7 separate regions of the Homo sapiens genome follow, and all the other regions are reported to be linked to region 3. Evidence: microRNA targets listed by miRTarBase, many of them from high-throughput screens and not tested one by one. Region 3 holds a microRNA gene; each other region holds the end of a gene's coding sequence.

Evidence for each region. Region 3 holds the annotated microRNA hsa-miR-766-3p (ACUCCAGCCCCACAGCCUCAGC, at 2,861-2,882, shown strand). A microRNA usually pairs through its seed, bases 2 to 8, with sites in the 3' UTR of a target mRNA and lowers its output. Matches are read on the target gene's strand: a 7mer-m8 pairs with bases 2 to 8, a 7mer-A1 pairs with bases 2 to 7 and ends in A, and an 8mer does both.
Region 1: miRTarBase lists PTGR3 as a target of hsa-miR-766-3p. The part of its 3' UTR that is shown has no 7-base or 8-base seed match.
Region 2: miRTarBase lists PEX13 as a target of hsa-miR-766-3p. Seed matches in the 3' UTR shown: 7mer-m8 at 2,460-2,466, 7mer-A1 at 3,314-3,320 and 7mer-A1 at 3,757-3,763.
Region 4: miRTarBase lists STMP1 as a target of hsa-miR-766-3p. Seed matches in the 3' UTR shown: 7mer-m8 at 1,760-1,766.
Region 5: miRTarBase lists TBC1D24 as a target of hsa-miR-766-3p. Seed matches in the 3' UTR shown: 7mer-m8 at 3,631-3,637, 7mer-m8 at 3,131-3,137, 7mer-m8 at 1,202-1,208 and 7mer-m8 at 339-345.
Region 6: the mRNA of RHNO1 is a reported target of hsa-miR-766-3p. Seed matches in the 3' UTR shown: 7mer-m8 at 768-774.
Region 7: miRTarBase lists RGP1 as a target of hsa-miR-766-3p. Seed matches in the 3' UTR shown: 7mer-m8 at 482-488, 7mer-m8 at 1,274-1,280, 7mer-m8 at 1,418-1,424, 7mer-A1 at 1,919-1,925 and 7mer-m8 at 3,941-3,947.

Annotation. Positions count from the first base shown.
Region 1 is chr18:75,197,625-75,201,880 of GRCh38, forward strand. It overlaps PTGR3 (prostaglandin reductase 3), which reads right to left. Exons shown (of 2, transcript NM_175907.6): 2 at 1-4,256. The coding sequence ends at 3,792. Among named protein-coding and RNA genes, the nearest start is that of PTGR3, 9.4 kb to the right of the region's middle.
Region 2 is chr2:61,048,206-61,052,467 of GRCh38, forward strand. PEX13 (peroxisomal biogenesis factor 13) reads left to right here. Exons shown (of 4, transcript NM_002618.4): 4 at 267-3,785. The coding sequence ends at 565. Among named protein-coding and RNA genes, the nearest start is that of SANBR, 16 kb to the right of the region's middle.
Region 3 is chrX:119,645,383-119,649,644 of GRCh38, reverse strand. It overlaps MIR766 (microRNA 766), which reads left to right and starts at 2,797; the gene lies at 2,797-2,907. All of the region lies in intron 5 of SEPTIN6 (septin 6), which reads left to right. RefSeq lists an enhancer at 1,564-1,743.
Region 4 is chr7:135,673,474-135,677,735 of GRCh38, reverse strand. STMP1 (short transmembrane mitochondrial protein 1) reads right to left here. Exons shown (of 3, transcript NM_001130929.2): 3 at 1,320-3,645. The coding sequence ends at 3,571. Among named protein-coding and RNA genes, the nearest start is that of STMP1, 13 kb to the right of the region's middle.
Region 5 is chr16:2,500,550-2,504,808 of GRCh38, reverse strand. It overlaps TBC1D24 (TBC1 domain family member 24), which reads right to left. Exons shown (of 8, transcript NM_001199107.2): 8 at 1-4,005. The coding sequence ends at 3,851. Among named protein-coding and RNA genes, the nearest start is that of ATP6V0C, 11 kb to the left of the region's middle. RefSeq lists an enhancer at 3,898-4,259.
Region 6 is chr12:2,887,806-2,892,067 of GRCh38, forward strand. RHNO1 (RAD9-HUS1-RAD1 interacting nuclear orphan 1) reads left to right here. Exons shown (of 3, transcript NM_001252499.3): 3 at 106-1,719. The coding sequence ends at 654. TULP3 (TUB like protein 3) reads left to right here and starts at 3,086. Exons shown (of 11, transcript NM_003324.5): 1 at 3,086-3,183. The coding sequence starts at 3,143. RefSeq lists an enhancer at 2,482-2,661 and a silencer at 2,932-2,981.
Region 7 is chr9:35,752,622-35,756,621 of GRCh38, forward strand. It overlaps RGP1 (RGP1 partner of RAB6A GEF complex), which reads left to right. Exons shown (of 9, transcript NM_001080496.3): 9 at 30-4,000. The coding sequence ends at 253. It overlaps MSMP (microseminoprotein, prostate associated), which reads right to left and starts at 1,655. Exons shown (of 3, transcript NM_001044264.3): 1 at 1,379-1,655; 2 at 1,039-1,147; 3 at 369-659. The coding sequence starts at 1,508. The coding sequence ends at 479. RefSeq lists an enhancer at 269-1,468.

The DNA.
Region 1 (4,256 bases), not on the chromosome of region 3:
TTTGTATTTTGACTTCTGAAATATGATCATAAATGTTTAATTCTGGGCCATAACTGGGAAATTAGTTACTGAACATCTAACTTTCAACAAAAAAGCCCATGAAGTTTACATAGATAATTCTTGTGTTTAACCAAGTAATAAAATATTTAATAAAATGAAAGTATACAGAAGAAAATTATGAATTCATCAAATCAGGCCGTTTTGCATCCAGATTGTATTCAGAAAACTTGTTTAACACCTAGGAAATTACTGTCCAAAGTTGATAGTGCTTGGTCTTTTTTATCAGTTTTTATTCTGAAAGCTGTGCATTACTAATCTACTTTTATGTAAATCTGAAATACAGTATTTATCCCATATGTCCACATGGTAAAGTAATCAAGAAAGATATTTTCAGTGCTTAGCACCCCCACCCCAATTTAAAGGAAACTCTGACTGTAGTAAATTCATGCTAATTGAGAACTCTGGGGAAGGGGTTAAAACATTACCCAGGTACAAGTCGGGTGGCCATTATAAACGTTACCCAAATAAAAGCCAGAAACAGGAAGCCAAAAACCAGGTCCCTAAGGCAGGCATGTGTCTTAAATGATATCATTTGTCAAGCTTCCAGCATCTTGTGGTGGTGAACACAAAAAGAAGGTCTGCGTTGTACTGAGGACATTACATCCTCATTAGCTGGAATGTTCCTCAAGTACATAATGCAGGATTTTCATTTTAATAAGAAGCAGCTACTTGTCACTGCACTTTCATTAGATAAACACAGAATGTAATACTAATGACCATTTACAGAGGCTCTATCCTACTCCTGAGGAACTTCATCCAGATGAAATCATATAATGACAAGTTATAGAATATATCATGCAAAACTTCCTTCATTTCTTTGCAAACTATTCCCTGAATTTTTTTTTTTTTAATGCTGAGGTCAGTTAACAGCAGTAGTCATCATCAAAGGAACCCCTAAATGACACTGCTGGTATTTTCTGCCTGCAAAACAGGCTTGAAGGAATAGCATTTGGCTCTTTAGAAGTCATAACCAAATGGTAACAGATCACTGGGACTCCTTGGTTTCTCAAAGAGGCAAGCTCCTTCCACCCTGCCCGGCTGGTGACCTTAAGCCCGACATGCAGAGAAGTCCACGCTGAGAAATAATTTACTCACTGGGATTGTTCCACCCTGGCCCCTTCTCTAAAAAGACTGACAATTGCCCTGAATTATGGATGTACTTTTTGTGATATGTATTACAGTTCAGAAGAAAGGTGTTGAGACCATCGTACCGTTTCACCTCCCATTAGAGGCTGGTCTTGAACAATAATCCCAGAAGATGAAACTGATGCTGAACTATGACCCTCAATTTACAAATCATTTTTCAAAAGAATAAAAAAAAGTTTAAACATATTTTTGGCATTATCTGAATGGGCGGAATCTTTCATGCTTGTTTTCTAAGAATAAGTGAAAACAGCATGCAGTGCACTTTCTTAGTTTGGGGAAAGAGAGAACATGAGGTTTTCAGATTATATTTTATTTTAATCCTGGGCGTTTGAATTTTATTTTTACATAGCTGCATTTAGTATATTCCCTCAAAACACAATAAATTTCTATTCTGTAGCTTAAGGGATCCATCAGTTAAAATGTTGGTCTTTCATCTTTATTACCCTCCCATTAAAATGAAACAAACCGGGACTCACTTCAGTTTCGAAGAAGCAATTTAGTTGGTAATGTCCTTACTCCCCAAGTCTTTACAAAGGGAGAAAGTACATTACTGCTTAGATTTCACACATCTATCTGCATAAGAAGCAACTAAGCCTTTTGGACATAGACTATGTTAAATTTAATAATATTCTTTGATTAGATTATTTTATTACAACATTTTTTCCATTACCAGTCATTTCCTGTGCACAGTTACATTCATAAAACCTGCTCCCCCCTCCTTTGTTTGTTTGTGAATGTAAAAGTGAGGCAAAGTCTCTTTCCGTGTGGCTGTGGCTGTTAGGTCTGAAAGGGATGGATGAATAACTAAGCACCACACTGGACGGGTTTTTCCTAGTCCCCTGCACCAGTAACCCTTTGCTATAATGAGGACACAAAGAGCCTCGCATCAGGCCGCTACCCTTCTTCATAACTCAAAAGCGTCACAGTGGCAATAGCCTCTAGTGCTATTTGTCTTTAGTGCAGTTGTGACACTTCGGCATGATCCATAATTTGGCAGCTATTTACCGTGACATTTCCCTTCAGTGCAGCCATAACATTCAGTGAAGCCATTATTTGGTTCCATTTACCATATAAATTGTATTGTTGTGCATGCATGCTAGCAGCTACATTAGGTACCTGAAAATGAGTAAATCTTGTAAAATAGATACTAACAGCTATTCAGCAGTAGGATTTCCTTGCTCCTCAGATGGAAGGAAAGAAAAATTAAATACAGTCCCCAAATTTCCTAGAGCATCTTTAATTGCGTCCATATTTACTGAGCAGGTTAGATACACCGAAACCTAAGACTTTGAAAAATAATCTGGTGGGCTTCACCTTCAATCAGAACGGGCCCATGGGGTTTCAGCGCAACGGTGACAGCGGCAGCAGTCTTCAGGGCACTAAAGGTTAAGAGGGAAGCCGATGAGCCACAGGCGTGACTCAGAAGAGAGGGTGCAGGTTTCGCTGCTTTTCCTGTGTGGTCAGTGGGTCAATGTGGGACATCAGGCTATAGTGCCAAGGAGCATCTCATTCCACCAGAACACGTGGAGAGAAAAATGGGAATGCAGAATGAGTGGCTGCTATTCTGTTTCCAGAATCAGAGGTAACGCATAGCTTCTAGTTCGAACGCCTCTAAGGAGAAGCAAATGTATTCTTCCTTGAGATGACTGAGGTCTCTACGGTGCACAGGGCGATGGGACATACCGTACCTCGAGCAGTGTAGCATGCTGTTACTAAGGCCTTGCCGTGTGCCTAGACAGCGCTTCCCTCCTGGGGCCCGTGTTTTGTGGTGAACCCCCACTGAGAATGGAGCGCACACTTTTCTCTTTCCTGTGCCTATATTAATTTTAAGTCCCCCTAATCTCTGTGGTTTCCCTTTCCAAAACCTACTTTCTGTCTATGTAAGTTTTCAACATTAATTTGCTGCTTCAGAGGAAAGAGAACATTTCCATTTCACATGTGCCTTATCAGGTTGATGGTAGATAAAAGCCATTACGTGCTACTTCTTCAAAACACATCTGTGTTCACGGAATCATTTTTCTAATAACAAAATCAAATTTGGGAGGGAATTCCCCCAAATGTCCATTTAGATAGTTGGTTGGTGATTTATAGAAAAAAAAAGGACCATTTCCTGAGGATATAGATTCTGAAAATATATGGCTGGCTTTTGCTACACTTGTCACTCATGAACTGCTTATGAGCATAAGACCAAATTCTCCCAAAGCAAAGAAGTCGGGAACCACTTTCAAAACTGATTTTAAAATCTGATCAAGCTGAAGACATACTGACTCGATCAGATCTGGCATCAGGAATGAATTTAGTTCCCTGGAACAATAACATCTGGAACGAGACCATCCATGACTAAAGAATTGAATGTAAGCGTTTTCCCTCTTAGCCATGGAGGGAAGTTTTATTAGCACATTTTTTTTTTTCCCCCAAGGGAAGAGGAGGAGGAGGAGGAGAAGGAGAGACCTATTCATTAACACCTTACTTTTGTTTTAAGAAATATTATATCCATTACCAACTAAAAATAAATTGATTTGAGTAATTCTGAGACATAAAGTGCCCATTTTCTTTCTCCCTTGATTTATGTCATTGTTCTGTTTTTACAGCTTACTGTTGACAGAGTGAGGTAATTCAACTACAATTTTTCCAGTGTTTTTTCCCATGTACATATAATTGACAGCACGGAATATGGACTCCAGGCCAGTAAACCTGCCCTCTGGAGACAGATCTCCAAGGTCCACCTCACAAACCAGGTCTCCGCTCACACACATCTCGAGCAAGTGGCTCATGGCTGCTTGATACTTAGAAAGGTAATGGTTCAGGAAGAAGCCCTGTACGCTGGCAGATTTCTTGAGCAGTTTGGCTGGCAATGTTCCTGCTTTCACAGGCGAAAGGCCAGTAGGAGTTTGGTAGCCAGAGATAAACCCTATTACTATCAAGCGCCCTTTCGTAGCCAGGGCGTCTACAGCCAAGTCAAACATGGCTCCCCCAACAGATTCATAGACCACATCGACACCTTCAGGGTACTCCTGCTTAAGGACGGTACCTACGGGTTCAGTTTTATA
Region 2 (4,262 bases), not on the chromosome of region 3:
TACTCTATGAATGGACCAACTGATAATAAACTTTATGTTCTTCAAGGTGGAAGGAAATATTTAGTAAGTATAAAATAAAAATAGAAGAATGGACCCTAGAACTGTTAAGCCTACTCAGCATTTGATTTTGAATATATATGCATGTACTATTTGTTATCTACTATGTAAGCATAACAGATTTTCCTGAATGTGATATTTTACCATTACTATTCTGTTGGACCTCCAAAGTATATTGTAATTACAAGACTGTCTTTTTTTTCCATCAGAACAACAACCCAAAGTGCGTGGTTGGCTTCTGGCTAGCCTTGATGGCCAAACAACAGGACTTATACCTGCGAATTATGTCAAAATTCTTGGCAAAAGAAAAGGTAGGAAAACGGTGGAATCAAGTAAAGTTTCCAAGCAGCAACAATCTTTTACCAACCCAACACTAACTAAAGGAGCCACGGTTGCTGATTCTTTGGATGAACAGGAAGCTGCCTTTGAATCTGTTTTTGTTGAAACTAATAAGGTTCCAGTTGCACCTGATTCCATTGGGAAAGATGGAGAAAAGCAAGATCTTTGATATCTTTCATGTTTGCCTGCAGTTGAACAATACTTTAGAGTACTTTTTAAAATTATTTCTCACAAAGAAATGAATGTACAATCCAATGAAAACATTTGTTATTGGCTATTTCAGGTGTTTTGCTGCTAGAAATTATTAAAGTTACACACTAGTATGTTGGTCTGGTGACCTGGTTACATTTTATTATACACATTATTGGACCATAAGGACATTTGTTTCACCTAGATTTTAAGATTATGGAGACTGCTGTCATTTTTATCTTATTTAAATCTCTAGGTTTATTGGAAGAGTAAGATTGATGAACTATAGCATGCACAGTTTGGTACAGTAGAGATCATTAATACTTTTAAAAGTTCTGCATTAATTGACTTGGAATCCTTAGAAATGGAGTGGTGACATGTCAGTATGAGAACAGGCAAAAGGTAAATTTTTTTTTTTTTTTACAACCTTAAGTAATCTCAATAATAAAATTTTCTGATCTGTATTATATCCAGTGTTGGGTTTATATTTTCACCCACAAACAACTGACACTGCTATCTTTTACTGTATTTTTAAAAATTTAATTTGAAAAGGTCACCCAGAAGCATTCTGAAGGAAATGGTTCTAGAATTATAGAGTATGTAGCCCTAATAGTTTTCCCTCCTAGCAAAAAGTCTGAAATTTATCTTTCTTACAAACTGTTCCATTTCTTCTAAGGATCCCTTAATTATTTATCTCTTTAAGCCAGGCATGGTGGCTCACGCCTGTAATCCCAGCACTTTGGGAGGCTGAGGCGGGCAGATCACCTGAGGTTGGGAGTTCAAGACCACCCTGACCAACATGGAGAAACCCCATCTTTACGAAAAATACAAAATTAGCTAGGTGTGGTGGCACATGCCTGTAATCCCAGCTACTCGGGAGGCTGAGGCAGGAGAATTGCTTGAACCCCAGGAGGCGGAGGTTACGCTGAGCCGGAGATCTCGCCATTGCACTTCAGCCTGGGCAACAAAAGCGAAACTCCATCTCAAAAAATAAAATTATTTATTTCTTTAAAATATGACTAGTTTTCATACTGGGTGAATCAGAAGTATATGAAAGGTATACTTTCTTTTCCTACAACAAATACTTGAGTTCTTTTGAGTTTGCACTTAATGATATAATCAGTTATAATAGTAATTTTTAATATTTTCATAGATTGTTTGCTTCTACCTTGTGTAATTTTTTAAATTCCATATTTAGGATGCTCTGTAAATATTGAAAATGTGTCACATTGGATACATTTTTCTTTTAGGTTTAGTTTTTACTACTGAGACTTATTTATAGTCTTAGTGCTCTATTGCCATTTAGAATATGATAATCCTCATGCCTTTAATCTCAGCACTTTGGGAGGCCAAGGCGGGCGGATCACCTGCGGTCAGGAGTTTGAGACCAGCCTGGCCAACACGGTGAAACCCTGTCTCTACTAAAAATACGAAAATTAGCTGGGTGCAGTGGCGTGCACCTGTAGTCCCAGCTACTCAGGAGGCTGAGGCAGGAGAATCACTTGAACCCGGGAGGCAGAGGTTGCAGGGAGCTGAGATCATGCCACTGCACTCCAGCCTAGGGGACAGAGCAAGACTCTGTCTCAAAACAAACAAACAAAAAATAATAATACGATAATGCTATTTGACGTGTTTTTTGGTTTATAATGATTTTAAATGCAGTTAACTTTCAGTACACTGAATATTTCCCCAGAAAATTGGAAACTTCATATACTTGGCTACGAACATACTACAGAGTAATACTATCAGGAATACAGGTGTATAAGAATACATTTATAGATATTGTTGAAAACTTTGAACTGTTTGATAAAAATTGTGATTTAGTATTTTTTCTTTTGTCTTTTTTTGAAACGGAGTCTCACTCTGTCGCCCAGGCTGGAGTCCAGTGGCGCGATCTCGGCTCACTGCAAGCTCCGCCTCCCGGGTTCACGCCATTCTCCTGCCTCAGCCTCCCGAGTAGCTGGGACTACAGGCGCCTGCCACCAGGCCCGGCTAATTTTTTTTGTATTTTTAGTAGAGACGGGGTTTCACCGTGTTACCCAGGATGGTCTCCATCTCCTGACCTCGTGATGAGCCCGCTTCGGTCTCCCAAAGTGTTGGGATTACAGGCGTGAGCCACCGCACCCAGCGATTTAGTATTTTTTTCTAATAGACTATGTTCAACAAATAAGTAATTCTCGAATAGTTCAGATTAAAACATACAGGAACCAAGTACATACCCAGCATAGAAGAACTTTACTAAAGGCTTCTTGGAAAGCCCTTTTTTGAAACGACAGTATCGTAAGTAACATATCATTTATAATAGAAATCTTGACCCAGTGCAGAAAAATAAATATAGTAAAATTTATTTATCTTTGGCCAGTTTTCCAACACCCAGGTATTAGCCTTGAAGTTGAAGAGATAAGGTTTCTTGTATATTATTTTTCATTTGTGTTCTACAATTAAAGGTTCTGCTTTGATTTGTCAGATAATTTATAGAAATTTTGTTCTCAAAACAAATGTTTGATAAAACAGATTATTAAATTTGGGGTTGAGATGTCTAAATTGAATGCTAGAAGTAAAGTAGAAGTGACCACTATTAAAGATGTATAGGGAGAAGAGTACAGCACAAAGTGATAAAATAGTGACACTTTTGTAGGGGTGTTTATTGTTTGGTTAAGTCTGCTAAATTACGGTATGCATTATCTGGTGACTATTTGTGCCTGAAAATTCGTTTTGTATTAAAATTCTGGAGAAGGAATTCAGGACTAGAATAAAGAGAAATTTTGTAACCTTTTTTATCATGACAGTTTTAGAATAATTTTTTTAGCTGAGATTAAATGTTCAAGGCTCCAATATTATTTTTAGGAACTTATTTAAGGAGTGCTACTTTACAGAAATTACTAACACACCAAAACATTATTAATTAAATAAAATATAAGTTTACAATAATAAAACATGTTTCTTTTAATTTTTCTGATTATATTTTATGAGTTCAGAAAGGAAATGGTAAAAGAACTATACATTTTCATGTTTTAACATTTTATGTACGTACTTGATTCTGTCTGTGTCATAATTACACATTTACTTGAACACAGCTATCCTTTATCTTGTGCTTTCTTTAATAGAAAAATGAACAGAAACTGAATGCAGTTAAATTTTTATTTTTAGTAGGTTGTGAAGTTACTTTTACTGGAGAAATAAAAATATGTTAAACTTGATTGACTTTTTAAGATAAATTGTTAACACTTTTGCAGGATTAGAATTAATATGAAGTATCTCTTTAACATTATTGTATATATTACCTACTGCAAACCTATCTGTTCTGTTTCTTTGTGATTTAAAGAAAAATAGGCCAGGCATTGTGGCTCACACCTATAATCCCAGCACTTTGGGAGGCCAAGGCGGGCGGATCACAAGGTCAGGAGTTCGAGACCAGCCTGACCAATATGATGAAACCCCGTCTCTACTAAAAATACAAAAATTAGCCAGGTGTGGCGGTGGGTGCCTGTAGTCCCAGCTACTTGGGAGGCTGAGGCAGGAGAATTGCTTGAACCTGGGAGGCAGAGATTGCAGTGAGCCGAGATCGCGCCACTGCACTCCAGTCTGTGCGACAGAGCGAGACTCCATCTAAAAAGAAAAAAACAAAAAAAAAAGAAAAATAATACATTTATATAGAATTACCTACAGGTGTGTTA
Region 3 (4,262 bases):
CTGCCTCAGCCTCCCAAAGTACTGGGATTACAAGTGTGAGCCACCACGCTGACCCCTTTATTATTATTATTATTTTACCAAATAGCAGCAAAACATCTTCACCATCCATCTTAGTGTAGTCAACTCTTTTTTTCTTTTACTTTTTTTTTTTTTTTTTAAGACAGGATCTCATTCCATTGCCCAGGCTAGAGTACAGTGGCACAATCTCGGCTCACTGCAACCGAGATATGTTATTTTTAAATATCAGGGTTGGCTGGGCATGGTGTCTCACGCCTGTAATCCTAGCACTTTTGGAGGCCGAGGCGGGTAGATCACCTGAGGTCGGGAGTTTGAGACCAACCTGGCCAACATGGCAAAACCCCGTCTCTACTAAAAAATACAAAAATTAGCCAGGCGTGGTGGTGTGCGCCTATAATCCCAGCTACTCTGGAGGCTAAGGCAGAGGTTGCAGTGAGCCAAGATTACGCCATTGCACTCCAGCCTGGGCGACAGAGTGAGACTCCATCTCAAAAAAAAAAAAAAAAAAAAAAAAATCAGCGTTATGCTTTGCTTTATTAAGTGTGAATGAATAATAATAATAAAAAACCTTGCCATCTTTCCTCTCCTCCCCCACTTTCTCCTACTAGAGAAATGAGTAATAAAGAAGGCAGAGATGCAAACATCTCCTAATGCTTCCTTACAATGTGTTGCTGTTGCTGTGAAATCTTCAATGTTGTGATTTCAAGGAGACAGCTAATAGCTTTCAGAAAGCCTCCGCTTTAGGAACAGATTTCTTTTTCTCTATTGAGTGTCATCAGTTTTTCCTAATGACATAATGCCTGGGTATAGCCAAACTCAGGAAAGCCTTGTAATAAAAGCCATTTTTAGAAAACTTTCCTGCTGCCACTGCCCTCTAAGTTATCATTACAACTTCAGCTGCCACCTCCTATGAATTGGCCAACAAATTAGCATAGCAGGGCAGCAAGTCATTGTCTCTCCTGACTTCCTGTCCATCAGTACACCCGAGATGTGTTTGTTATCACCATCACCATCTTAGACAAATCTGGCTCAAGGGTAAGGCTATCTGGAGCATGGTAGGTAGAGATAGGTCTTCTCTGACCGGCCGTGGGCATGGAAAAAATAAAAAAGATTAGCACTTGTCCTCTCGAGAAGTCAGGGCATTTTGATGGAAACTAGGCTCTGTTATGAAGAGACAGCCTAGTCTGCAGAAAAACGGGAGCCTCGCGAGAAGTGTCATCTGGGTGCCACGGGCACTGATGTCTGGAAGCGTCTAGTCACCTCAGGACATCAGTCCCCATAGAGACCTTCTGAACACTGATGCCCTAAGTCATCAAGCAGCTTGCAGGCTTGTGGTTTGCTTTGCTAAGAATAAATAGGGACTGAGAGTACTCAGCCATCTCAAGGTGTCACACAGAACCACATCTTGGTACCTCATGGATTAGGAGTGATAATCATCCTGGGCTCTGTTCTCAGCTCAGCTCTGGCCTCCTGCTAAGCCTAGGGTAGGCTCAACCTCAAGGCTGGAAACCCCCAAGCTAGGCAGCAGCAGTTGTCAAGCATGCTGTTATGGCTGTGAAGGGATTCTGGGTCCTTTATTACTCATAATTGTGTTTCACTTTGAGAAACAAAATTCGAGGCTGAACAACATAGTGAGACCTCATCTCTACTGAAATTTAAAAAAAATTAACTAGTGGCCGGGCGCGGTGGCTAACGCCTGTAATTCCAACACTTTCGGGGGCCAAGGCAGGTGGATCACCTCAGATCAAGAGTTCGAGACCAGCCTGACCAACATGGAGAAACCCCGTCTCTAGTAAAAAGACAAAATTAGCCAGGCATGGTGGCGCATGCCTGTAATCCCAGCTACTCAGGAGGCTGAGGCAGGAGAATCGCTTGAACCCAGGAGGCAGAGGTTGCAGTGAGCTGAGATCTCGCCTTTGCACTCCAGCCTGGGCAACCAGAGCAAAACTCCATCTCAAAAAAGAAAAAATTAACTGGTGCTGTGGCGCACACCTGTAGTCTCAGCTACTTGGTCGGTGGGTGGCCTAAAGTGGGAAGATTACTTGAGCCTGGGAAGTTGAGGCTGCGGTGAACCCTGATCGAGCCACTGCACTACTGCAGGCTGGGTGACAGAGCAACACCCTGTCTCACAAAAAAAAAAAAAGAGAGAGAGAAAGGAAAGGAAAGAAAAAGAAAGTAAATAAAGAGAGAAAGAGAGAAAGAAATAAAAAGGAAGGAAGGAAGGGAGGAGGGAGGGAGGGAATTCCAGTGGAAGGAAGGAAGGAAGGAATGGAGGAAGGGAGGGGAGGGGAGGAGAGGAGAGGAGCAGGGAATTCCAGTGGATTCAGGATTATCCCTATCATAAATCACTCACCACTTACTCCCTTGCATCCTACTGTGCTTTGTTTTTTTTTTGAGACAGGCTCTCACTCTGTCGCCCAGGCTGGAGTACAGTGATGCAATCAATTTCAGCTCACTGTAGCCTCCACCTCCTGGGTTCAACTAATCCTCCTGCCTCAGCCTCCCGAGTAGCTGGGACCACAGGCATGCACCACCATGCCCGGCTAATCCACTATGGGTTTTTTTTGAGTGGGAAAGAGAGGAGTGGCCTCACAGCTAGTGTGCCTGAATTGGCATGCCTGTGAGAGGAGCTTGCATGTGAGTGTTTTGTGTTACATGCGCTGTGATGGGAAAGAGGGTGCTATCAAATATACACAGAGGATTGCTTAGCCTGCCTGCCACCGAACAACTATGTCAAAAGTCCCCAGAGTCTTCACACAAGCCGTGGTGTATGAAGCTGCATCCTCAGGACCTGGGCTTGGGTGGTAGGAGGAATTGGTGCTGGTCTTTCATTTTGGATTTGACTCCAGCCCCACAGCCTCAGCCACCCCAGCCAATTGTCATAGGAGCTGGATTGGAAGAAGCGGAAGAAATCTGTTGCCTGAGTGGAGAAGACTGTACAATGTCCTGTCTCTCACCATGGGGGATTTTTGTGGCAGGAAATGAGAGTAATGAGGTCCCTGCCACCACCTTGAATTATGGGTGGCTCCAGAAAACCTTATTGTAGATTGAGGGGGAAGAGAAGGGAGAGCGAGGTCTTGTTGCATGCTATTTTCAACCCATGCTCTGATATCTCTCAAGGTTGTAGACTTTAATACTAAGAATTGCTATGTTATTTTAAATTTAATGATGTTCTTTGAATGGCTGAAAGCATGGCCAGGACCAGCAAAAAGGCCCAGTTACTTAATTGACTGAGCTCCATTAATTGTCCATTTGTGAGGTCTGGGGTTTGGTTCCCACAAAGGCAATTGACATTTGGGCCCAGTGAGAACACATGGCTGAACAGTAGGGTCATAGGAAGACCCACAGGCACAAGTCCATCCCTTCCTCTGAGACAGCAATGGTATTTCCATTGTTGCCATGTACTTTTACAGGAATCACCAGTGGTTGACTTGAGAGCAAATCAGCCAATGGTCTTGTTCAGTCACCAGCAGGGGCCTGAAATGGGGACTAACATAACTGGGAAACACTGTCCACCCTGGGAGGAAACCAAGCCCAATCAGAATATTATCATTAGATGAGGAATAAAGAGTTCTGACAGTGTGTATTTCACTGGGCTAAGCAGTCACCTAGCCTCCCAAGTATAATGGATGTGGTGAAATAAGAATAAAGTAACTCACGCCAATTGGATTATTAAGTACTTTACAATGTACAAGAAGAATTTAAGTTAGACACAAGTCAGTAAAGGTGGTGCTATGGTTTGATTGTGTCCCCTCCAAAATTCAGGTGTGGCCAGTATGATAGTATTAAGAGGTCGGGGCTGGGTGCAGTGGCTCACACGTGTAATCCCAGCACTTTGGGAGGCCAAGGTGGGCGAATCACAAGGTCAAGAGATCGAGACCATCCTGGCCAACATGGTGAAACCCCGTCTCTACTAAAAATACAAAAAATTACCAGGCGCAGTGGCTCATACCTGTAATCCCAGCTACTTGGGAGGCCGAGGCGGGTGGATCACCTGAGGTCGGGAGTTCGGGACCAGCCTAACCAACATGGAGAAACCCCGTCTCTACTAAAAATGCAAAATTAGCCGGGCATGGTGGCACATGCCTATAATCCCAGCTACTCAGGAGGCTGAGGCAGGAGGATCGCTTGAACCCAGGAGACGGAGGTTGTGGTGAGCTGAGATCACGCCATTGCACTCCAGCCTGGGCACCAAGAGCAAAACTCCATCTCAAAAAAAAAATAGCTGGGCATGGTGCCACACA
Region 4 (4,262 bases), not on the chromosome of region 3:
ACCAGCATAGTATCTAGGGAGTGAACGGGTTAGTGGAAATGAAAACATTACACATGTGTACCATGGGTACATATGCTCTATGAGGCAATGTGTATAGACAACTAGAAAAACCACACAGCCTACTTTTCTCTATAGTCACACAAACTCATTGGGTAAATGAGTTAGAAAAAGAGAAATAAAATTGCTCCTTTAAATCAGAATCAGGTAACTGCTTAAATACATAAAATACCAAATCAGAAGAAAAGTCTAAAGATATACTTTTGGTAACTTCATAAAATTCAGCCTCTTTTGACAATTTTAAATAAGGCTTTTTTTCTTGCTTTGTTTTTGTTTTGTTTGGGAGGATTACAGTTTAGGGATAAGCTTTTCAAGTTCACTGTATTTTTCTAGCATCAATCCTGAAGTCTTGTATTTCACATGTCAGAGTAATCTGCACTAGTATTTTGAGCAACTCTCATTTTATGGTCAGATGTGGCAGAAGTTTTCCTAACCATATTAGTAGGAGCTTTCAAACATTTTTTAAAGGAAAAAAAAAAGGCCTGTCTTGTGGTGCTTCTTCCCACCACTCCATTGATCTGTGTGGCAAGGGTTCCTACAAAATTCCCAGGGAAGGGGTAACTTTCAGTGCCATAAACCCCATTCACAGTAAGGATTTTCAACTACACCCTAAAACTATGATGGTTCTGGGCTCCTCCAACATATAGCTCAGTGAAGATCATCTTGCCTGAGAACTCTGAGGTCCTTTTCACTGCTGCCAAGAACATAAAACTAGGAGAGGGTATCTGAATGGTGAATGCAAAGTCAGCCTGCACTGTGTAGCAGTTTACATGATGAAGCCGAATTTAAGAACTGATCTGCTAGATGGATCCCACTGGTAGAAATGATCCCCTTGCCAAGGTTAAGTGTCACCTCTAAAGGAAGCCCTAAGTCCAAATGAGCCTTGTTTACAAGGTATAATATAAAGAGACCTATCCTTCTAATAGCTAAGTGACCTCCAATCCCAAAGCAGCCACTCTGGGAGACCACACACACCACAGCAATGCTATCATGGTTGGTAACAAGGAATCCCTCTTTGGAAACAGCTTTCTAAGCTTCTAGCATTTTTAATACCCGCAAGGTAAACTTTCATCCTTTGAGGCTGTAGTTCATTGTGCTAACAATTCAAGATCAAATCTTGTGAGCCAGATGGTACAATCCAGGTGGATACTGTAAATTTTCATCAGTATCAAAAACAGCGACTACAGAATAATGACAAACTTTTTGTGTGGTTCATAAACTGATTCCAAAAGTGACTGCAGAACTAGCCAAAAAGCAACAAGTTTGTACTAATAGCTACTATTTATTAGATAGTCTGCAAAGCACTGTGAAACATTACATACATTATCTCAATTATTTTTTATGAAAACCCTATGAGGTGGATATTTACGTCCACGTCTACAGATAATGCAAGAGTTTCTGAAAGAATAAGCTACAAACCCGTGACATGCAATTTACCTATTAAATGAATCTAAAAGTTTAAAAAAGCTGGGCGCAGTGGCTCACGCCTGTAATCCCAACACTTTGGGAGGCTGAAGTGGGCAGATCACTTGAGGCCAGGAATTTGAGACCAGCTTTGCCAACATGGTGAAACCTCGTCGTTACTAAAAATACAAAAATTAGCCAGGTGTGGTGGTGATGCCAGCTACTTGAGAAGCTGCAGCACGAGAATCACTTGGACCGGGAGGCAGGAGTTGCAGTGAGCCAAGACTGTGCCACTGCACTCCAGCCTGGGCAGCAGAGTGAGACTCTGTCTCAAAAAAAAAAAAAAAAAAAAGCCACTTGCCCATGATCACGCTGCTAGGAAAAGTCAAACCATAATTTAATCCTAATCTGTCACACACAAAGACAACATTGACAGGAATAAAACTTACTTCCATGTAGGAGAGATGCAAGTTGTCAAAGAGAAGCAGAATCACTTTATCATATACAGAATCAATGTCATCACTGTCTGAAAAAAGATGCTCTGAACAATTCTTCCAGTTTATTGATTCTGAACCTGCCATGTCTTCAAAAATGGCATTATTAGTGAAGCTGCTCAACAAGTCCTCTGAAACAAAACAGCTAGCGAAATGGGTATTTGTATTTAGTCTAAATTATACTTTTAGGACTTCATCTTATAGCTATACCCTGAATCGATATGCTTAATAACATTAGGATTGAAGTTATCACTGTAATAGCAAAAGAACAACCTAAGCATTCACCAGTAGCAGATTAAATCAATTATGTTATATCTATTCAAAAAAATTTTAGGCAGCCAAAAAAAGAATGAGGTTCCTTGCTACTTACATGCTGGTATAGAATGATCTCCATTAAAAAAGAAAAAAAGAAAAAAAAAAGGCGAGGGCTAGACCTCCATGTATAGTTACTATTTGTGTTACACGTGTTTGTTTAGGCACAGACTCTTTCTCAAAAGTATAAGGCGAAGTGGTAACAGTAACTTGTCAAACAGGAGCCAGGAGCCAGAGAACAGGGGTGGGAGAGGCCCTTTATATGAAATTACTTTTGTATCTTGTCCCATGGCAAAAGTTAATTATTCAAATTTTTTTTTAATTTAAAAACAATACAAGCTGATTATACATTTGACAAATACAAGGAATTTCTGACTGCAGGAAAAAACAAAGCATCAACTACAAAGAGAAGCAGAAATTCTTCTTGAGCTGCTGATTTTACTATACATTTGGGCTATATTTTTTCTTAAGACAATCACTACAAAGTAATAATATAAATACCTTTTTTAATGTGAAAAGGTATAAAATCTCCTTTAAAAACTTTTCACTTATCCATCATATAACATCAAATGTACCTGTAATCCCAAGTATGATTCTTTTGAGAAGGAAAAAAGTCAGATCAAATACATCATTAAGGAAAAACATGCACACTAAATAGACTATGAACTCTACTGGGACAAAGACCATTATTTTGTGTATTTTTTCATTCCCCAATTCCTGACAGGATTCTCAGAATCGTTTCTTCATGAATAGCAAATTGACTTATTGGTTAAATTAGCAACTACAGAGCTGCCTAACAACAGTACAAAATAAATGAATAATTCACCAGAAACTAGCTCTAGATACTAATTTTAATTACTTTGCAGCAACATAATTTAGTACCAAATGTTTAACAAGTACCCATTATAATTACTAAACTGTGAAGTCACTATTATTTGTATCTGACCAGCTATACAAAACTCATCAATTTTTCTTTTGAAAAAAGGTAGTAAAAATCGCAAACGATAAAGAAGACACTACTCATTAAAAGTCATGTTTACTAATCTAGCACCATAATTCCAGTCTTAGAACCTCCCATGCAGTTGGAAAGGGATTATGGGAAGAGGTGAGTATGTTGGAAATGTCGGGTAGTTCTCAAATTGGGGCCCCATTTTGCTTGCTTTAAAGCAAAAAACACAGGGTCTAGCAAAGAAGAGAAGTGCTGAGGCTGGAGACGAAAACAAAAGCTTTTGGTTCAGATAGTAAACGAGGCCCTCAAGAGCAGTAGAATCAGTATATCCTGAAGGCAGTGCTGGAGGCAGTCTCATGCACTAGGGGGTTTCTTCTTGGCATCCAAGTCCTTTTTAATTTCTTCAAGTTTTTTAGCCAGGTTTGGTATCTTTGAAGAGAAAAAAGGTTATTATAATTTTGCATCTACCTAATCAATATTCTTGTACTTCTCTTCCTCCAAAGATAAATGGTTTTACAAGCTTTTATCTTCCTCCAAAAGAGATCTGCTAAATAGTGGTTATTTCTTTTTGCTTTCTTTTTTAAGATAGGGTTTCACTCTGTCACTCAGGCTGGAGGGCAATGGTGCAAACACAGCTCACTGCAGCCTTGACCTCCAGAGCTCAAGTGATCCTTCCCGCCACAATCCCGCAAGTAGTTGGGACCACGGACATGCCACCACCCCTGGCTAATTTTTGTATTTTTTGTAAAGATGGGCTTTCGTCACACTGCCCAGGCTGGTCTCGAACTCCTGAGCTTGAGCAATCTGCCCACCTCGGCCTCCCAAAGTGCTAGGATTACAGGCGTGAGCCACTGCACCCGGCCAATAGTGGTATTTCTTAGCCTTATAACTGCATGTGAAAGATATCAGAAGTTGTCAGATAAGTATGCTCCTTCTCTGAAACCCACTTCTACTTTTGTATACCCACTTCCGCTCGATCTGGTGCCAAGTAAAGGTTGTACATATAAACAATAAATGTGACATAATGTAGCCTTTGCCTAGAAAAC
Region 5 (4,259 bases), not on the chromosome of region 3:
ATATTCTGGACTTAGTAAAAATGTGAGAAAGTAAACAACTGTAAAAATTAAATCGATTCCTGGACAGTGGGAAAAAAACGGGGCAATCTCGGCTGGGCGCGGTTGCTCACGCCTGTAATCCCAGCACTTTGGGAGGCCGAGGAGGGCAGATCACGAGGTCAGGAGATCAAGACCATCCTGGCTAACACGGTGAAACCCCATCTCTACTAAAAATATAAAAAAATTAGCCGGGTGTGGTAGCAGGTGCCTGTAGTCCCAGCTACTCAGGAGGCTGAGGCAGGAGAATGGCGTGAATCCGGGAGGCGGGGCTTGCGGTGAGCCGAGATCGCGCCACTGCACTCCAGCCTGGGCGACAGAGCGAGACTCTGTCTCAAAAAAAAAAAAAAAAAAAAAAGGGACAATCTCAATAGGCCTGTGGTTTAGTTAACAGCAATGCAACAATGCTTATTTCTTTGTTTTGATATTGACTTGGGGGAAGGTGAGGGTACATGGAAACCCTGTACCGTCTCTGCAACTCTTCTGCAAATCAAAAATTACTTCAAAATAAAAAGGTACACAACTAAATTACTAAATATAAACTACTCAAGGAGACTGCAAAGGCTTTATGGGTTCAGAAAGTGGATAAGAGAAATATGAAGGCCTCTGAAATCTTCAAAACGTTTTAAAACAAATTCCACTGAAAAACTCAAAAAATGAAGTATGCGGCTTACAAAAATAGAAAAATTAAAATACTTTAGTTCATTAAAACTCTGAAAAAATTCAAGTACAAATGACTTACTCTCATAAGTTCTTTTGCTTAAACTGATTTTCTGAAGCCCCAAAGGCATATAATCTGCTTTAATGAATTCATTTAATAAACTATTTTAAATTAGGTGCAATTGTTGTTTTAAAAATAAATGTTAAACATTTATTCAGCACAAAGTGGTCTATTCAAAAAAATTAAAAAATAGGCTAGGCGCGGTGGCTCACGCCTGTAATCCCAGCACTTTGGGAGGCTGAGGGGGGGGTGGATCACGAGGTCAGGAGTTCAAGACCAGCCTGACCAACACAGTGAAACCCTGCCTCTACTAAAAATACAAAAAAAATTTAGCTGGGCGTGGTGGCGTATGCCTGTAATCCCAGCTACTCAGGAGGCTGAGGCAGGAGAATCGCTTGAACCCAGGAGGCGGAGGTTGCAGTGAGCCAAGATCATGCCACTGCACTCCAGCCTGGGTGACTCTGTCCCAAAAAAAAAAAAAATCAAAAAATAATTCTTTGAATGTTTCTAAAAACAAATGATAATTTATTATGCAGTTTCAACAAATGTTGGCTTTTTTTTTTTTTAAACAAAGAATGGCTACTTCATAGGCAGAGCAGCCACTTTTGGCTAATTTTTAACATCCAAAGCTAATAAATAATCAAGAAGAAATAGAGAACATTAACAAAATAAATTATGTTCTATTTGGGAATACCTAATATCAGATACTAACAAGTACAGTGATAAGAATAAAAAAGATAATAATCACACATACCTTCTAGGTTAGTAGAAAAGTTAGGAAAAGATATTAAATTTAAAGAAACAATATTTTGCATGCACACAAAAAACAAAGAACTTCGCTCATGATGTGGAAATCATGACCCAGCAGCAATCCGTCTTCCTGGTCCAGATCACTGGAAGGCCCGGGTGGGGCCCCCTGGGGGCAGCCACGCAGAACCTGCTGGACTTAACTCGCCAGAAAAATCACCACCCAGTTCAGGAAGTTTGCAGAGGGAAACCTACAAATGGTCCACGGATATGACTTCCCTGCTCCTGGAGGGCTCCCTCTGGAAGAGGCTTGCAGCATTCCAGTCATAGAATGTGGGTGAGCACTACAGCGGGCAGCCTCCCACACCTGCTTGGCTGTAGGCCCAGGAAGCCCCCGGAGGCCCCTCTGGCTGAAGAGATCAGACTCAGCTTGGAGCCCTGGAGTTGATGCAGCAAGACCATGTTTAATGAACACCAAAGCTGGCGGTACAGATGAGGGCCTCAGGGGCTCAGGCGGGGGCCTGGAGGGCTGCGGTGGGCTGAGATGAGTGGCGACTTCCCTCCCATACCTCTCCCCGTGAGAGGGATTCACCCCATCCCCCTGCGAGCCTCTCAACAGTCCTGTGAGGAGGACAGCAGGGCATGGGGACTGGCCCCATTTCACAGCTGGGGAAACTGAGTTCCAGACGGGTTTGTCAGCTTGCCCAAAGCCACACAGGGTTCCCGGTCCTTCCTCCTGCACCACTGTGCGCCCAGTCAGAGGCTACATGAGCAGATGGTCAGGGGAGGCTAAAGCCCCATGGGAGGAGCAGGCAATGGTGTGGGGATGGAAAGTGGCACGGTGCAGGGGACTCCAAGTGGCACTGGCTGGAGGCCAGCAGGGACGGGGGTGGGGGCAGGACTGCTGGTACCTGCCTCTGTGACCCAGGCTTCCATGGTCCCAGAACAGCCACTTGGGCCTCTGTGTCTCCCTTCTCCCCTCCGTGGTGACCAGACCCTCAAGACGAGTTGAAGGAGGTCATGGGGCATGGAGGGAGGTCACAAGGCAGGGGGCTGCCCCCTATAGTGCCCAGAGGCAAGGCCTCCCCTGGCACCTACCTGCGTCTGGCCAGCGCAGGGCTCAGGCAGGGCAGGGGCCCAGGGGCCCAAAGGCTGTAAGGTGAGAGGCTCACAGAAAACCCTGACACGTGGCCAGCCACAGCACCACAAGAGGGACAGAGGGAGGACATGCATCCATGCAAGGTGGCCAAGGAGGTGCTGTGTGGCCAGGGCCAGGGGAGGGCACGGGGCCTGGTGCAGAGAAGCAGTTGGGGCTGCACTGAGATGAGCATGCCACAAAGAGGGGCTTGGGCGTGACCCTGGGCCCCAGGTCATTGCAATGACAAAGAGGTGAAATGGGCAGCTGCAGAGGCTACAGGAGCTCAAGGAGGCCTGGGCTGGAAGGGAGGGGAGCTGAGAAGCCCCCTGGGTCCAGGCTTCTCTGGGCAGACCCCTGGAAATGGAGCTTGCTGGTCTGGGTCGGTCCCTGAGGGCCTCTCCCGGGGCTACCTCTTCAGATGGGAACACGCAGGGAGGCCCAGCAAAAGCTTCAGGCTCTGCAGAAACACAAGGACATGTGACATCCCCCTCCAGCTCCCACCCTCCCTGGGGGTGGAGCCCAGCACAAATCCCACCCTCCTCCTCCCACCCAGCAGCTCCCAAACGCAGCCCAGGGGAGCCTCAGAGGCAGCCAAGAAGGGTTAATGTGAGAGGTGGCCCAGGAGGCCTGGGGAGGGAACTGGGGCAAACGCCCAGGACAGGGGGTGGGGTCCGCCAGGGGGCAGGCCCAAGGGTGCCAGTCTGTTCTCGGGATCTACGCTGGGATTCAGTCGCCAGCCAGCCAGGCTGCAGGGCCCTGCTCAGGAGGGCGCGATGCTATGCGGCACCAGCAGGGGGCACCACAGGCCCACCCTTAGCTGCACGTTCCCACTGCCGTTGTACTCCCACCCCAGGGGCTCAGGCTGCCTAGAGAGGCTCAGGGGCAGCAAGACCCAGACACTCCCAAGGCCTTGGGCTATGGAAGCCTCCACGGAGGAGGAAGGTACTTCCTATGCCAGCTCTGGGTGGGGCTGGGGGCACAGCAGGCCCTCCAGCTCTGACCCAGATGCAGGTGGACTGGGGAAGCCCAGCCCAAACCCCAGGTAGAGGCAGCAGCAGGTCCAGGCAACGCCAGGCTTGGCCATGGGGTCCTGCCGTCCCCCAACCCTGCCTACCACATGGGGGTTTCATCTGCTCTCTGCTGCCCGAGGCGGCAGCCCAGCCTCGGCCCACCGCCCCACCACGGCTCAGTCACCGTGGCACAGGCCGTCACTGGGTGTCAGGGTCCTGGAAGCCCCAGGCCTCCACGGCAGCAATGAGGAAGTTCTCGGAGCAGAGGGGCTGGTTGTTGAAGGTGTCGCAGTGGCTTGTGCGGCCCCGGTTCAGGTCCCCATCGATGTAGAGCGCCTGGCCGCCTCCTCCCCCTGCAGGATGCTCAGGTCAGTGGCGGCCTGACTGCCCTATCAGCACTGACCCAGGCACCTCACCTGCTGTCCCAGCTGTCCTGCCCTGCACGGGCCTCTCTGAAACCGCACAGACCGTTGACCCTCCATAGCCCCCAGGACCAGCTGTCCAGGCTGGTCTCTCCCTTCCAGCCCCCTCCCACCCATCATGCCTGGTCCACCCTGACACCCAGGGCCTCTTCTCTGCCACCCCGGTCAGGGAGGGCTGGGTGCAG
Region 6 (4,262 bases), not on the chromosome of region 3:
CATTACTACAGTAGACCCCGATTTAAGAGTCTGGTCATCAGATACAGTTTCCTCTCTTAGGTTAGTACTTAGTTAGGCTCACCTCACTTTTTTTTTTTTTTTAAGGTATCACCTGATTTTGATACAGCAGCAGGAAGCTTGTTCCCAGCCTACCAGAAACACCAAAACCGGGCGAGACACTCAAGTCGAAAACCTACCACCTCCAAGTTTCCACATCTAACTTTTGAGAGTCCGCAATCTTCCAGTTCAGAGACATTGGGGATCCCCTTAATCCGAGAGTGCCCCAGTGAATCAGAAAAGGATGTTTCCAGAAGACCCTTAGTTCCAGTGCTCAGTCCCCAAAGCTGTGGGAACATGTCAGTGCAGGCACTTCAGAGCTTACCTTATGTGTTCATTCCACCTGATATCCAGACCCCAGAGTCATCGTCTGTGAAGGAAGAACTCATTCCCCAAGATCAGAAGGAAAACAGCCTTCTAAGCTGCACTCTTCACACTGGCACTCCTAATAGCCCAGAGCCTGGACCTGTTCTGGTTAAAGACACCCCCGAGGACAAGTATGGAATAAAGGTCACATGGAGGAGACGACAGCACCTGCTTGCTTACCTCAGGGAGAGAGGGAAGCTGAGCAGAAGCCAATTCCTTGTGAAAAGCTGACTGCCATCAGTAATCTCAATAGAAAAGAGATATGTTTTCTGGAGTCATAAAGGAATTCAATTCCTAGGGTTTTTGTTTTTGTTTTTGAGATGTAATATTGCTCTGTTGCCCAGGCTGGAGTGCAGTGGTATGATCTCACCTTACTGCAACCACCACTTCCTGGGTTCAAGCGATTCTCCTGCCTCAGCCTCCCCAGTAGCTGGGATTACAGGCACCAGCCACCATGCCTGGCTAATTTTTTTGTATTTTTAGTAGAGATGTGGTTTCTCCATGTTGGCCAGGCTGGTCTCAAAATCCTGACCTCAAGTCATCTGCTGGCCTTGACCTCACAAAGTGCTGGCCCAGCCGAGATTTGTTTTCTAAGATACTTTGTGTCATGAACAGTTCAGTTTAGTGTCATGAACTATTCACTTCATATTTTTCTTGTATTAACTGTTTAAATTTTTAAAATATCTTGTAGTAACTCTTTAAAATGTATGTAAGTAAATGGCTGCAGAAAGTTTTTTTAGAGAATCCTGCTTCCATCAGTAATACAGCAATATTACCCCATCCACTAATGGTCTTTGTTTCCTTAACCACTACTCATTAATCCTTAATCACCTCATTCAAACTAATTCATTCTGCATTTTTGAGTACCAACTCTTGTCAGGCTCAGTGGCAGCTTCTACGACCTGATGGATGGAAAAAAATCAAACTCTGTGACTCTATGGTTGACTGCCACCTCTGCAACCTTGACTCATCTGCTGAAAAGGCAAGAAGAAGAAAGGGCAGCAAGCCCTGTTTTAGGGACTACATAAGATGAGGGGAGATAAGGGGGACATAGATGAGTTCTTTAGGATTGCGTGTGTTTTGAGTTTTTGTTTCTAACTGAAGAAATCTGTCAATATTAAATAGGGTGGGAAAATGGTTTCTTAGAATAACTGTTCAACTGTGTGTAAATAAGGAAAGTTTTCAATGAGTATTACTTATTGTAATTAATGCAGAAGGACTTCCCCAGTCAACCGAATGTCTCGGCCTTTTACTCAGACAAGTAGCATCTCATTAAACCCATTCATTTAGCATTCATTCAGCTGGACCTACTGTGTCAGGTCCAGCCCCAACTAGATCAAGCAGGGATTACTGTATATTTTACAGATGGGAGTTTGATGCAGAGAATGAACCATGCACAGGTCACACAGTGAGTGCACGCTGACCCAGGCAGTGTAACGGTCCACTCTCAGCGTGTGCCTCCTAAAGTACTAACTTGTAGGTTCAAAACCAATGTGGAAACAACTTTGACCTTAGAACGCCATAAAGCCATTTGTGCAGTGACTTGTCAGGACTCAGGATGTTTTGTAGGGACTATAATGTGCATGTCGGTAGGGAGAAAGGGACTGACATTTGGGGACGGGATTTATTGGAGACAAGAGTACACATTTAGACAGGGGCTCTCACGGTGGGCTATGGATGTTTGAGGAAGGCCCACAGGAGGTAGAAAGGTAGATGGAAAGAGTCTCCAGGACGGGCCCACGCCTGTAATCCCAGCACTTTCGGAGGCTGAGGCGGGTGGATCATTTGAGGTCGGGAGTTAAGAGGCCAGTCTGGCCAACATGGTGAAACCCTATCTCTACTAAAAATACGAAAAATAGCCAGGCAGTAGTGGCCCCTGCCTGTAATCCCAGCTACTCCACAGGCTGAGGCAGGAGAATCGCTTGAGCCTGGGAGGCGGAGGTTGCGGTGAGCTGAGACCGGGCCACTGCACTGCAGTCTGGGCGAGAGAGAAACCCTGTCTCAAAAAATTAAAGTCTCTGGATTCCCTCGTGTGCTTTAGGGGAGTCTGTAGAGCAGGTCTAGGAATGACCTAAAAGCTTGGGCTGGAGTAGGGGAAGCTTAAGTTCTGTGCAGTTGAAGTTCAAGGCCAGCCTATGGAAGATGCGTTTCACTGGGAGTGACTGATGGAGTGGAGAGGGTACCAGAGGGGGTCCACGAAGGCCGCTGGTATCAGGGCAGGGGCCAGAATGGGAAGCGGCAGAGGTCTGTACATCCTCACAGGGCAGACCTCGGGAAGCGCTCTGGGTGGGCTCGGTAAAAATGGCGGGGGTGCGAGGAGCCGTTGCGTGCGTGGCGGTTGGTGCGGTATAGGAGACTCCTCTGACCGGACTCGCCTGCTGGCCGCGCGGCGGGCGAGGCCCAGGCAAAAACAAAGTCTTCCCGCTCAGTACCGGCCCCGCGAGGCGCTCCAGAGGACCAAGCCTTAGCTCGCGTCACCCCACCCCCGCGCAGGCGCGTTTAACTCCCGCTCGCCTCCCGCCCCTTAGCAACCCTCCCGCATCGTTGGGCCCCGGCAATAGCCAATGAGACAGGAGCCACGAGAACACGGACCAATCGGCGGCGGCGACAGTGTGGAACGCGGTTGCCAGGAGGCGGGACGCGGCGGCGTGCCAGCCTAGCCACTCTAGCGACGGCGGGGAAGAGTGTGTACGTGGTGGGGGCTTCCTCGGTGGCGGGCATGGAGGCTTCGCGCTGCCGGCTCAGTCCCAGCGGCGACAGGTCAGACAGGGCCGTGGCAGGTCTCCTCCTGAGCGAGGCGGAGGGGCGAAGCGAGAAGGCGGAGGTCCTCTCCGGGAGCCCTGCGGGGAGAGGGCGGGACTCGGGACTTGGCGACTCAGGGAGGGACTGGTTTCGGCGGCGGGAGGCGACCCCCTCGCCCTACTCCCGTGTGGGGACCCCTTTCTCAAGTGGAGCGGCGGCACTACATCCCGCGCCGTGGGCAGAGACCTTTGGTTCAGGTCCCTGCTTAGGAACTTCTGGAGTTTTCGTGACGGGCTCCCTCGGCCCCTCTGGGCCTCGGGTTTCCCTCGGGGGAGAGGCGCTGGCCCCGCTCAGCTCCCACTGCCCGGCGGTGTCACAGCCGAGAGGGGACCCAGCCCCTCCCGGGAGGCGGTGCGGGTGATGTTTAGTAGCTTGTTCTGACGCCGCTGCTTCGGACGGGTAAAGCTGAATTCTGGAGCAGAGTCCGAGGAGCGGAAACGCGAAACTTCTTTTTCCTCTCTGCTTTCCAGTGTTTGTCCCTGATTCGGGATGGTCTGACTGATTTGCCAGTGGGCCACACCCCTTGTTTGTGCGCCTCTTTCTCTGCCAGAGGGAGAGCCTCGGAAAAAAAAGGATCCAAAATCTCAGCGTGTCACTTTCTTGTTCGCTAGGTTAATGAGAAGTTAATGGGAAGCCGTTTGAAATCATTGGTTAGAAACTTTGGCGTCATCTGAGGATTTAAGCCCTACACGCCAACTGTATACCCCGCTTTTTATTCCATTACCAAGACAAAGATTTGGGGCCAGGCGCCTTGGAACACGTCTATTATCCCCAGCACTTTGGGAGGCCAAGGCAGGAGGATCGCTTGGTCTCAGGAGTTCGAGACCAGCCTGGACAAGATAGCGAGACCCCCATCTCTAGAAAAAAATAAAATAAAATAAAATCAATCAGTCAATCAATTAAAATTTGGCCGGACACGGTGGTGCGCGCCTGTAGTTCCAGCGACTCGAGAGACTGAGGAGGGAGGATTCCTTGAGCCCAGGAGTTCCAAACTCCTGTGTTGGGCCACTGAGCTCGCTAGCCTGGGCAACGCAGTG
Region 7 (4,000 bases), not on the chromosome of region 3:
GCTTCTACCTTAATCTTTTTCTTCCATAGTGTCCTTGAAGTGGAGATTGCATTTTGAATTTGTAACGTCCCGAGAACCAGGATTGGTACTCCTACCCCCTGTGGAACAGCCCGAACCTACCACCTGGACAGGACCTGAGCAAGTACCTGTAGACACCTTCAGCTGGGACCTGCCCATCAAGGTGCTGCCTACTAGCCCCACCCTGGCCTCATATGCTGCCCCAGGCCCCAGCACCAGCACCATAACCATCTGAAACTGGCCCACCCTGGTGCTAGTTCCTTCCGGATACTGAGAACTCAGCACCTGGACTCTAATGGGACCCACTTTTTCCACCTGGGGTCCAATGTCGTGGACAGTGAGAGTCGGGCTTTCAGCTATAGCATTAATTTATTTGTTCAGAATACATTGGCAGCTGCTAGTGGTTTCCCTGGAAGTGGCAGCAGCAGTGAGCAGTCAGCAGATGGATGATCAGTTGAGTTTAGCTGGAGTGGGGAGCAGGAGCCCCAGGAACAGGGGTGTTGGCTGAGCCCCATTCTGGGTCAGGCCCTCCCCCTTTGCAGGGCAGCCGAGGGTCAGATTTTTGCACCAAGGAGAACTGGCAGGTTCCTGCCTCCTGACGTACCTCACACCCAGCCGGGAAGTCGATGGGATGCTGGGACCTGGGGAACCAAGGATAGGGGAAGGAGTCAGCACAGTGAAAGGCTGCCTTTATCCCTGCCCACATGTTCCCTCTCTCACAGTTTTCCCCCCACAGAGCCCCTTTCAGTGGCCCCTTGGTCCTCCTAACTAAGCTGTCACCTACCATATGTGGGCCTTTTTGTTTTATAACAGGAGTATTTTCTCTCCAGGTCCACCCCAACCTCCCCTGATTTATAGCCTGAAGCCTTATCTTTCACACTAGTGTTGGTCCCTTCAGGTTTGGCCCATCTTGTATTGCTCTTCTGTTCATTCTTACATCACAGCAATCTAGTCACTCCCTGGTCATCCCTCAGTCACTCATATCAGAGTCATTCTCTCTGGCCATCTTTGGTCACTCACGTGTCACAGCAGCCCACGCCAACAGGATGCAGACAGGTGCAATGGAAACAGTCCTTGCGGAGCCAAGACTCACCCAGGGTAAAATATTTCCCCTCATAGTGACAGGGGGCTAGGGAAGAACGGGAAATGTTAGTAGGTGTAGGAGTGCTGATGAGAGGCAGAGGCTCTTCTGGTCTGGGGTGGAGACAGTAAGTACGCACTATCCCCGTATTTAGTTTGTCTTTCCTGTTTCACAGCTGGAGGAAGCCTGGGTATTTTGACACGGGATCATCTGTAAGGCCCCATCCTCCCTGTGCCCTCTCTGCTGCTCCTCCATTCCTAACGCTTCACCCCACTTTACCTTGAGCTTGGAAGTAGCACTTGCTGTAGACTCCTGGGTGCTGGAGGAGTAGAGACATCACCAAGCAGATGATCCCCCAGCCTCCTAGGATCCCCTTGGCCTGTCCAGCCCAGAGCATCCTTAGGGCCATTGCTGCTGCACAGCCCTCTCAGACCCTTCTTGGCCTCTGCTCAGCTACTCTGGTCTTGACTCCTTGACTTTGCTTTGCGTTGCTCCTTGAGTCTTAGTTTCTGTCTTTCTCCCCTGGGCTCCTGTCTCACACTATCTCCCTGCCCTCTGCTCTCACAGGCTGGGGATGTTTATAAAGTGAGGACCCTGGCCCCCTGCTGAGTAGAGCTGGAAAAGTTGTAACTCTGTTTCCTGAGGTGAGGGCATGAAAACAAGAGGTCTAGCTTTAACAAGCTGTGAGAGCTGATTCATGCCCCGGCACAGCTAGAGGGAGGGAGGTGGCCATGGAGGGGGCACTGGACTGGGCACTTCCCCAGCAAGGAGGCAGGAGGGGCGAGGGCCCCCAGGTGGTCCCCAGATCTCTTCCCTGACCTGGAGAGAAGGAAGCATTCCACCTTCCCCCTTTCTCCCCCACTGCCACCACCAGGGGTGTGTATGCTGGGATCCCTGCCTGGACCGGAGGGAGGCATTTCCTGGGGATGGTTAATCCTGTGCCCCAGCCAAACCCAGGAGCTGCAATAGGGTGCGACGGCCAGAAGCTCCAGGAGAGTGAGCAGGCACCTGGAGTGGAGACTGTGTTTCCCTCAGATCCTAGGGCAGGGTTTCCCTAATGTATCCAAGAAATAGGGCTGCCCCTCAGAGATGGTGGGGAGGGTCTCTTTTCCTCAGGCATTCCAGAGGTGAACTGTCCATTGCTTATCACCTTCAAACATACAGCAGATGTGGGATCACCCCACATCTGGGGATGGTTCTTTCCCCTTTCAAAGAGGAGCATCTCTAAGTGCCCTGATGGGATGAATCACTCCAGGTTCACAGAGGTGTCCTCTCTTTCCTCCCATATATAATGGAGTGAGGTTTTTAGGAATTTATCATTTGGCATCCTCTGAGTTTCCCACAGGTTCTGGAGGAGCCCAGGATGGATTATTGAGAGCATGGGCTGTAGAGACAGTCTTCTTGGATTCAGATCCTGACTCCACTTAGCTATGTAACCTGGTCAGATTACTTCACCTCTCTGAGCCTGTTTCCTCATCTATAAATTGGGGATAGTAATGCCAACTCATTGGGCTGTTATGAGGATTACTGAGATAATGCGTGCAGTGCTCTTATCACCATCTCTGGTGCGTAAGCGTCAGGAAATAGCAGTTGCTGTGATTGGGGCTAAAGCTCTGAGGCAAAATGGGCGACATTATTTTCTTTGAATGACATTAAGCAGTTTGTGCATAGCTGAGGGCTTCTATTGGGGATGGCTGTCTCCTGGCATAGACCTCTGCACCTTTCACACTCATACTCCTTGTCAGCAGTCCCCAACCTTTTTGGTACCAGGGACCGGTTTTGTGGAAAACAATTTTTCCACCAGTGGATGGAGGGGGATAGCAGCGGGGAGATGATTTTGGGATGAAACTGTTTCATCTCAGATCATCAGGCATTAGATTCTCATAAGGAGTGTGCAATCTAGATCCCTTGCATGCGGAGTTCACAGTGGGGTTTGCACTCCTGTGAGAATCTAATGCCTCTGCTGATCTGCCAGGAGGAGGAGCTCAGGCGGTAATGCTCACTCGCCTGCCGCCCACCTCCTGCTTTGTGCTCCCGCTTCCTAACAGGCCACAGACTGGTACTGGCCTGTGGCCTGGGGGATGGAGACCCCTAATCCATGTCACCTTTCCCACCTCTTTCAAAAACAGGTACCTCCAGGAACATTTTGGTTTTGGCCCTTGTATTGACTTCTGAATGTCTAGTTTGAGAAACTGTTCCCAATAAGCCTTCTTCCCCCAGATCTGCACCCTCGCCTCTACCCTAGGACAAGATGTCCTTTTCTCATCATCCTGCCAGGCTAACTTTAAGTCTCCTGCTTTTTCTCACTTGGATTTGGATCCATTTCTTCCTATTTCCGCTCATGTGAACTCTCCAGTTCTCCTTTCTCACCACTCTCCTGCTAGCCATCTCTTTGGCACTAAAGGCCCTGGTCAAATTGGATTTCTTTCATTTTTCCACACTTCAAAGACCCATGTTCTAGGTATTCTCCATAGGGATAGTCTCTTTGGCATTTATTTGGTTTTTCTACGTTTTCAGTCCCATTTACTCCAAGACTCACTCCCTGCCACCTAGTGCATCAGATACAGCTACTTCTGGCTGACTTTTCAAGGGGGACCACCCTACCTGTCATCTCTTCACTGTTCAGAAATGACTGTGTCAGTGCACCTCAAACTCCCTTGCTGTCCTTTTCCAAGGAGACAGCTAAGGTGGATGGAGATGCAGAATGGACCTCACGTTCGCCCTAGTCAGGACTGATACCCTTTCCGTTTCAGAGGATTGCCAAGAAAAAACTCACAGTTGAGGCAGGGTGCTCTGAGGTCGGCTGCGGTGTGGGAGGCACGGCCTGGGCCTGCTCTCTGGGCTGGAGCAGGTGGATTCGAAGGCCTGTCTAGCACGAGGGCCCAAAGGTCTTGTCAGTGG